Linked DNA regions of Homo sapiens. The protein of the gene in region 1 interacts with the protein of each later gene in a biochemical or structural test. Each region holds a gene or a part of one and is shown in the gene's direction. Other genes may lie near its edges.

Region 1 (3,500 bases):
CGCCTTGCTGTAAGAAGAATGGACTGGACTCTTCCATTAAGAGGGAAGCATGGGCCAGGTGTGGTGGCTCACACCTGTAATCCCAGCACTTTGGGAGGCTAAGGTGGGCAGATCACCTGAGGTTGGGAGTTTGAGACCAGCCTGGCCAACATGGTGAAATCCTGTCTCTACTAAAAATACAAAAATTAGCTGGGTGTGGTGGCAGGCACCTGTAATCCCAGCTACTCAGGAGGCTGAGGCAGGAGAATCGCTTGAACCCGGGAGGCGGAGGTTGCCATGAGCTGAGACCACAACATTGCACTCCAGCCTAGGTGACAAGAGCAAAACTCCATCTGAAAAAAAAATAAAAAAAGGGAAGGATGGTGGAGAGAGTTGTTCTGAGAATGGAAGGAACAAGTCAAGAGTTGAAATTTAGGAAATTAACTTGCCAGGTACCATGGAGGGTCCATCGAGGATAGAAGAAGCTAGAGTAGTTAAGGATACTGCTGTGTTCGTTCAAGTGAGAAAAGGTGAAGTCTGATATAAAACAGATAGCAGTAATAGCAGCTAATGTTTTGGGGCATGTATTATGTGCCAGATAGTGAATTTTGTAAATGCATTTTCATTTAATTCTGACAGCAACCCTATGAAGTGTGATCTTGTTTCCTTTTTATAGTTGTGGAAACTGAGACACAGGGAGACTGAGTAAGTCTTTTCCAGGGTCACATTGTTAGTAGGTGGCTGAACCAACATGTGAACCTAGTGATACAATATTCCAGAATTCTTACTCTTAATCACTAAGTTTTACTAACACAGGGCATTTGGGGATGTATTAGAGAAGATGGCAAATTTGAGAGATGTATAATCAAAAGAACCTGGTGATTTTACAAGTAGATGTTTGCAAGCTAATTCTAATTATGGGTGAAATGGATATATGTTTATTCCATTGTCTTTTTAATTCAAAAAGTACATTGATTGATATTCTTGTGTATTTGCTTCATAGTAAGTCTTTTATTACATTATATCATTTAATCTTCTTAATAACTCTGCCAAGAAGTTTGATAATACCATTTCACAAATGAGTAAACTGAGGCAAATTATCCTGTTTGATGTCTGAGAGATAGTGATATACATTTTAAACTCACTGACTCAAAGACCTGTGAGCTTAACTACACTCGCCTGCTTTCATCTAAATGTTGTTGATGAATAGTGTCTTACTGGTCTTTTTCTTCTGACGTTTTTCTCTTTTTCCAGTACTCTCGCAAAAAACTCAAATTTAGTGCGACTTAACCTTTCTGGGTGTTCTGGATTCTCTGAATTTGCCCTGCAGACTTTGCTAAGCAGCTGTTCCAGGTATGAAAGATGTGAGACTTGATTATAGACTCTTATGTCAAACGTAAAATTATCCCTCACATCTGTATAAAATGGGATGAACTTTTTGAGCTTTTTGTACTTTCCAGGCTCTTGATTTGGTGAATGCAAAATCTTTTGCCCTCCTAACTTTCTGTCCAAACTCAGGAGCCAAGTCAATTGAGTTTGCAAGTGATACTTGTATAGTGATCTCTTTTTTGTTTATTTGGAACTGTTAAAATAAGGGAAGTGTAGTAGTGTCTATCAACAGTATGGTTGTAAGAAATTTGCTCACACTTAACTGTACATTCAGGTTTTTTCCCCTATGGTATCTGTAGACCTAACTTACAATTTTTTATCAAATTTGGTGTTTTATAAATATAGACCGTAAATTTGGGCAATTCTATTAACAATATCTTTCATAATAATGTCAGCACATAAAGGGTACAGAGTTACAGATATTGCTAAGTGAGGGGAGTACATGCTTTTTGGAATACACAGTACTAGGCATATGTGTGTTTTTTAAAAATATCCCTTGGTCTCCATGGTACAGCATTTGAATCTGTGTCTTGTTAATGGTCCATTTAAAATAGATTGCCTCTGGATATGCGTGTTATCAGTGAGATCAAATGTATAGCCCTATATTTAGTCAGCAGTGCCAGAAGTGGGGAGTGGGGATTAATGGTTGTATTTTGTCTCTGAAACCCTCGTTTTTGCTCAGTTAGCAGAAGCACAGTAAGACGAAGTGGCTTTTTGCAATATCAGCATCTCTTTATTAGGAATCCTCAGTGCAATCCATCAATTGCGTAAAACATCCTGAGTGATTGTTCAGTCTGTGTTGGGTGGTTGGTAGTTTGAGAAAGCAAACATAAAAGACTGGCATTTCTACCTGCAGTACTGGAATAAGGTTTGAGCCATCAGGTGCTTCTCTCCATTTCGAGGAGGAGGCACATTCACTAAGGCCCTTCTGATCCCCTGGCAACTTTCAGGGGCAAACAGGGTATACTTAGGTGACTAAAGGTAGCTACTGTTAGAGAAGCAGGTGTTCTGTGCATGAAATGATAAGGAATCCATGGTTTTATATTTTCTTTGTTTGCAGTTTGAGGCAAACTCATTCCCGTGTGATGGTTTCATATTTTGTTTATTACCCCTCTTTTGTGCAGACTGGATGAGCTGAACCTCTCCTGGTGTTTTGATTTCACTGAAAAGCATGTACAGGTGGCTGTTGCGCATGTGTCAGAGACCATCACCCAGCTGAATCTTAGCGGCTACAGAAAGAATCTCCAGAAATCAGGTTAGAGCTTCCAAGCCTGGACCACTGAGGCCTTCACAACATAATAGATGAGATTCATTGAGCTTCTCCTAATCATTCCTCCACATAAGTTTTCTCATTTAATCCAGTGCATGTGTTAGTCCCCTTTTTCAGATGAGGTAGCTGCTAATCAGAATGGTTAGGTAAAGGTAAACAGCTAGTGAGCTAGAGCCAAGGTTTGAATTCAGGATCTAACAGTAGAAACCTTTACACTTGAAAACAATGTATTTTTAAGCAGAAAAACTTTTAATCAACTAAATGGTTAGGTAAACCCCAACATAAAAATACATAAATGTAGCATTTGATTAGTATTAAGTAGTGGTTGTTCATTAGGGGCTATTTTGTCTGTACGGGGACATTTGTCAATGTCTGGAGACATTTTTTATTGTCACAGCTGTAGGAGTGCTGATGGTCTCTCATGGGCGGAAGCCAGGATGCTGGTGGACGGTGTATAGGATGGAGAATAGCATGCACAATAATCTGGTCCAAACATCAGTTCCAAGGTTGAAAAACTATTATAAACTCTGTTAATAAGTTCATATTTATGACTTTTACTTTTTATTCAGTCCAAGAGGGCAACGAGGATTTTTAGATGAAAACAGGCATTAGAAGTCAAAGGTAGCAGGGAGCAGTCTTTAAAAACCTTAATATTCAGTTACGCTTTATTTTACTTGTATGTTAATGAGAAAATCTTGATTTGCAAAGATAAGTGATTACAAATGGCAAGTTTTTTAAATGGCTTCACCGTCTCAGGCCAACATTCAGTTTGTGGGCTCTACAAAACCTAGTTAAACCAGCAACACACATCAACCATATCTTGATGTTAGTACTAGCTTATTTGAGTGTGTTTTGTTTATTA
Region 2 (3,500 bases), on another chromosome or scaffold:
TGTAATCCCAGCACTTTGGGAGGCCGAGATGGGTGGATCACCTGAGGTCAGGAGTTCAAGACCAGCCTGGCCAACATGGTGAAACCCCGTCTCTACTAAAAATACAAAAATTAGCCATGCGTGGTGGCACATGCCTGTAGTTCCAACTATTTGGGACACTAAGGCAGGGGAAGTGCTTGAACTCGGGAGGCAGAGGTTGCAGTGAGCTGAGATTGTACCACTGCACTCCAGCCTGGGTAAAAAGAGTGAAATTCCATCTCAAAAAAAAAAAAGGAGACAGGGTCTTGCCCTGTTGCCCAGGCTGGAGTGCCGTGGCACGATCATAACTCACTGTGGCCTCAAATTCCTGGGCTCAACTGATTCTCCTGCCTCAGTCTCCCAAGTAGCTGGGACCACAAGTACATGCCACCATGCTAGGCTAATTTTATTTTTATTTTTAGAAAATAAAATATTTTTTATTTTATTTAGGCAACATGCTATGTTGCCTAGACTGGTCTTGAACTCCTGGCTTCAAGCTATCCTCTTGCCTCAGCCAACCAAAGTGCTGGGATTGCAGGTGTGAACTGCCATGCCTGGCTTTCTATTCTCTATTTCTAGGAGATAAGCTTTTTGAGCTTTCACATATGAGTGTGAACATGTGGTATTTATCTTTCTGTGCCTAGGTTATTCCACTTAACGTAATGTACTCCAGGCTCATCCATGTTGATGGGAATTACAGGATTTCATTCTCTTGTAATGGCTGAATAACATCCCATTTTGTGTATATAGTCCACATGTTCTTTATCCATTCCTCTTTTGATAGACACTTAGGTTGATTCCGTATCTCGGGTATTATGAGCAGTGCTGCAGTAAACATGAGAGTGCAAATATCTCTTCAACATACTGATTCCCTTTCCTTTGGATATATATTCAGCAGTGGCATTACTAGATCATGTGGTATATCTATTTTTAGGTTTTTAAGGAATCTCCATACTGTTTTCCATAATGGCTCTACTAATTTACATTCCCACCAATGATTTGGTTGAGTTTATTCCTCACTCTGAGCAGCATGTTAGCTGGACTTAAACCCCGTCCAGCTTGTCTACATCTGGCCCATCACTTGCCAGTGGGAAAGGCACTTACTTCTTTGTATCTCAGTTTTCTCATCTGTCAAATGGAAATATAACAGTAATTAATTCACATGGCTGTGTAAGGATAAATAAGACAGTACATATAAAAGGCTTTCACCTTTTATAAGAAATAGTGCTTCGATGTTACCCATTATTATTATTTTATTTCATCTTATTTATTTATTTAGATACAAGGTCTCATTTGTTGCCCAGGCTGGAGTGTAGTGGCACAATCATAGTTCAGTGCAGCCTCAAACTCCTGGCCTCAAGTGATCCTCCTCCTTCACCCTTCTCAGTATTTGGGGCCACAGGCGTGCACCACTATGACCATCTAAATTTTTTTTTAGAGATGGGGTCTCAGTATGTTGCCCGGGCTAGTCTTGAACTCCTGGGCTCAAGTGATCCTCCCACCTCAGCCTCCCAAACTGCTGGGATTACAGGCCTGAGCCACCATGCCAGGCCTCATCTCTATATCTTTAGGGTTAGTCACTGGCACCTTAATTTGTTCATTTGGTGATGTCATGTTTCTCTGATTGACCTTGATCCTTATGGCTGTGTGTCAATGTCTGTGCATTGACATAGGTACCTAAGCCAGTCTTCATTGCCTGGCTTTGTTTGGGCTCGTCTTTCATCAGGAAACCCATAGGAGATTAGGGAGAGGCTGATTGGTCAGGACCCTAAGCCCATGACTGCTTCAGCTGTTGTAGTGCTGGGGGGTGCTCTAAGCCCAGCATCACTGTGGTTGGAATTCTTTGGCCACTGAGGCTGACACAGCCCTGGGTTATGCCTGAAGGCCATAGCTGCCGAGACTGGCACAGCACTGGGGCACGCCCAAGACCCACAGCTGTGATGGCGTGCTTGCTGCTGCTGAAGTTATTCAGGGCCCAGGGCCACTGTAGTTGTCAGGTAGTGATGTGGGCCAGATCGCCAGTCCCTGTTACTGGGGCTGTGGGTTCTCATCTGGCACTAGGGTGGGGTGAGATCTGCCTGTGGGTACTGGTCTAGTATCAGGGTGATGAGGCTCTGCCCAGTACTGGGTTTTACTGTAGTGAGCCTAGTCCTGGTGACAGGTGACAGCGTGCTGGCAGCCATCACAGCCCTCGCTCGCTCTCGGTGCCTCCTCGGCCTTGGCGCCCACTCTGGCCACGCTTGAGGAGCCCTTCAGCCCACCGCTGCACTGTGGGAGCCCCTTCCTGGGCTGGCCGAGGCTGGAGTGGGCTCCCTTAGCTTGCGGGGAGGTGTGGAGGGAGAGGCAGGGGCGGGAACTGGGGCTGCACGCGGTGCTTGTGGGCCAGCGCGAGTTCCGAGTGGGCGTGGGCTCGGCGGGCCCGCACTCGGAGCGGCCAGCCGGCCGGCCTGCAAGCCCCAGGCAGTAAGGGGCTTAGCACTTGGGCCAGCAGCTGCTGTGCTCGATTTCTCGCCGGGCCTTAGCTGCCTCCTGGCAGGGCAGGGCTCGGGACCTGTAGCCCGCCATGCCTGAGCCTCCCCACCCCGCAGCCATGGGCTCCTGTGCGGACCAAGCCTCCCCGACCAGCGCCGCTCCCGGCTCCACGCCGCCGAGTCCCACCGACCACCCAAGGGCTGAGGAGTGCGGGCGCACGGCGCGGGACTGGCAGGCAGCTCCACCTGCGGCCCAGGTGTGGGATCCACTGGGTGAAGCCAGCTGGGCTCCTGAGTCTGGTGGGGACTTGGAGAATCTTTATGTCTAGCTAAGGGATTGTAAATATACCAATCGGCACTCTGTATCTAGCTCAAGGTTTGTAAACACACCAATCAGCACCCTGTGTCTAGCTCAGGGTTTGTGAATGCACCAGTCGACCCTCTGAATCTAGCTACTCTGGTGGGGACTTGGAGAACCTTTGTGTCCACACTCTGTATCTAGCTAATCTAGTGGGGACGTGGAGACGTTTTGTGTCTAGCTCAGGGATTGTAAACACACCCATCAGCACCCTGTCAAAACGGACCAATCAGCTCTCTGTAAAACAGACCAATTGGCTGTCTATAAAATGGACCAATCAGCAGGATGTGGGTGGGGCCAGATAAGAGAATAAAAGCAGGCTGCCCGAGCCAGCAGTGGCAACCTGGTCAGGTTTCCTTCCATGCTGTGGAAGCTTTGTTGTTTCATTCTTTGCAGTAAGTCTTGCTACTGCTCACTCTTTGGGTCCACACTGCCTTTATGAACTGTAACACTCACCGCGAAGGTCTGTAGCTTCACTCCTGAAGCCAGCAAGACCACAAACCAACCAGGAGGGACTAACAACTCCAGACGCGCTGCCTTAAGAGCTGTAACACTCACCGTGAAGGTCCGCAGCTTCGCTCCTGAAGCCAGCGACACCACGAACCCACCGGGAGGAACGGACATCTCCAGATGCGCCGTATTAGGAGCTGTAA

Evidence for each region.
Region 2: the proteins of SKP2 (region 1) and USP18 form a complex in vitro, tested with the Homo sapiens proteins (one study listed by BioGRID).

What each region holds. Positions count from the first base shown.
Region 1 is NC_000005.10:36,169,111-36,172,610, forward strand, and holds part of SKP2 (S-phase kinase-associated protein 2), read left to right. Parts: intron 1-1,233; coding exon 1,234-1,332; intron 1,333-2,492; coding exon 2,493-2,623; intron 2,624-3,500. UniProt on the Homo sapiens protein: Substrate recognition component of a SCF (SKP1-CUL1-F-box protein) E3 ubiquitin-protein ligase complex which mediates the ubiquitination and subsequent proteasomal degradation of target proteins involved in cell cycle progression, signal transduction and transcription.
Region 2 is NC_000022.11:18,153,170-18,156,669, forward strand, and holds part of USP18 (ubl carboxyl-terminal hydrolase 18), read left to right. Parts: intron 1-3,500. UniProt on the Homo sapiens protein: Interferon-induced ISG15-specific protease that plays a crucial role for maintaining a proper balance of ISG15-conjugated proteins in cells. Regulates protein ISGylation by efficiently cleaving ISG15 conjugates linked via isopeptide bonds.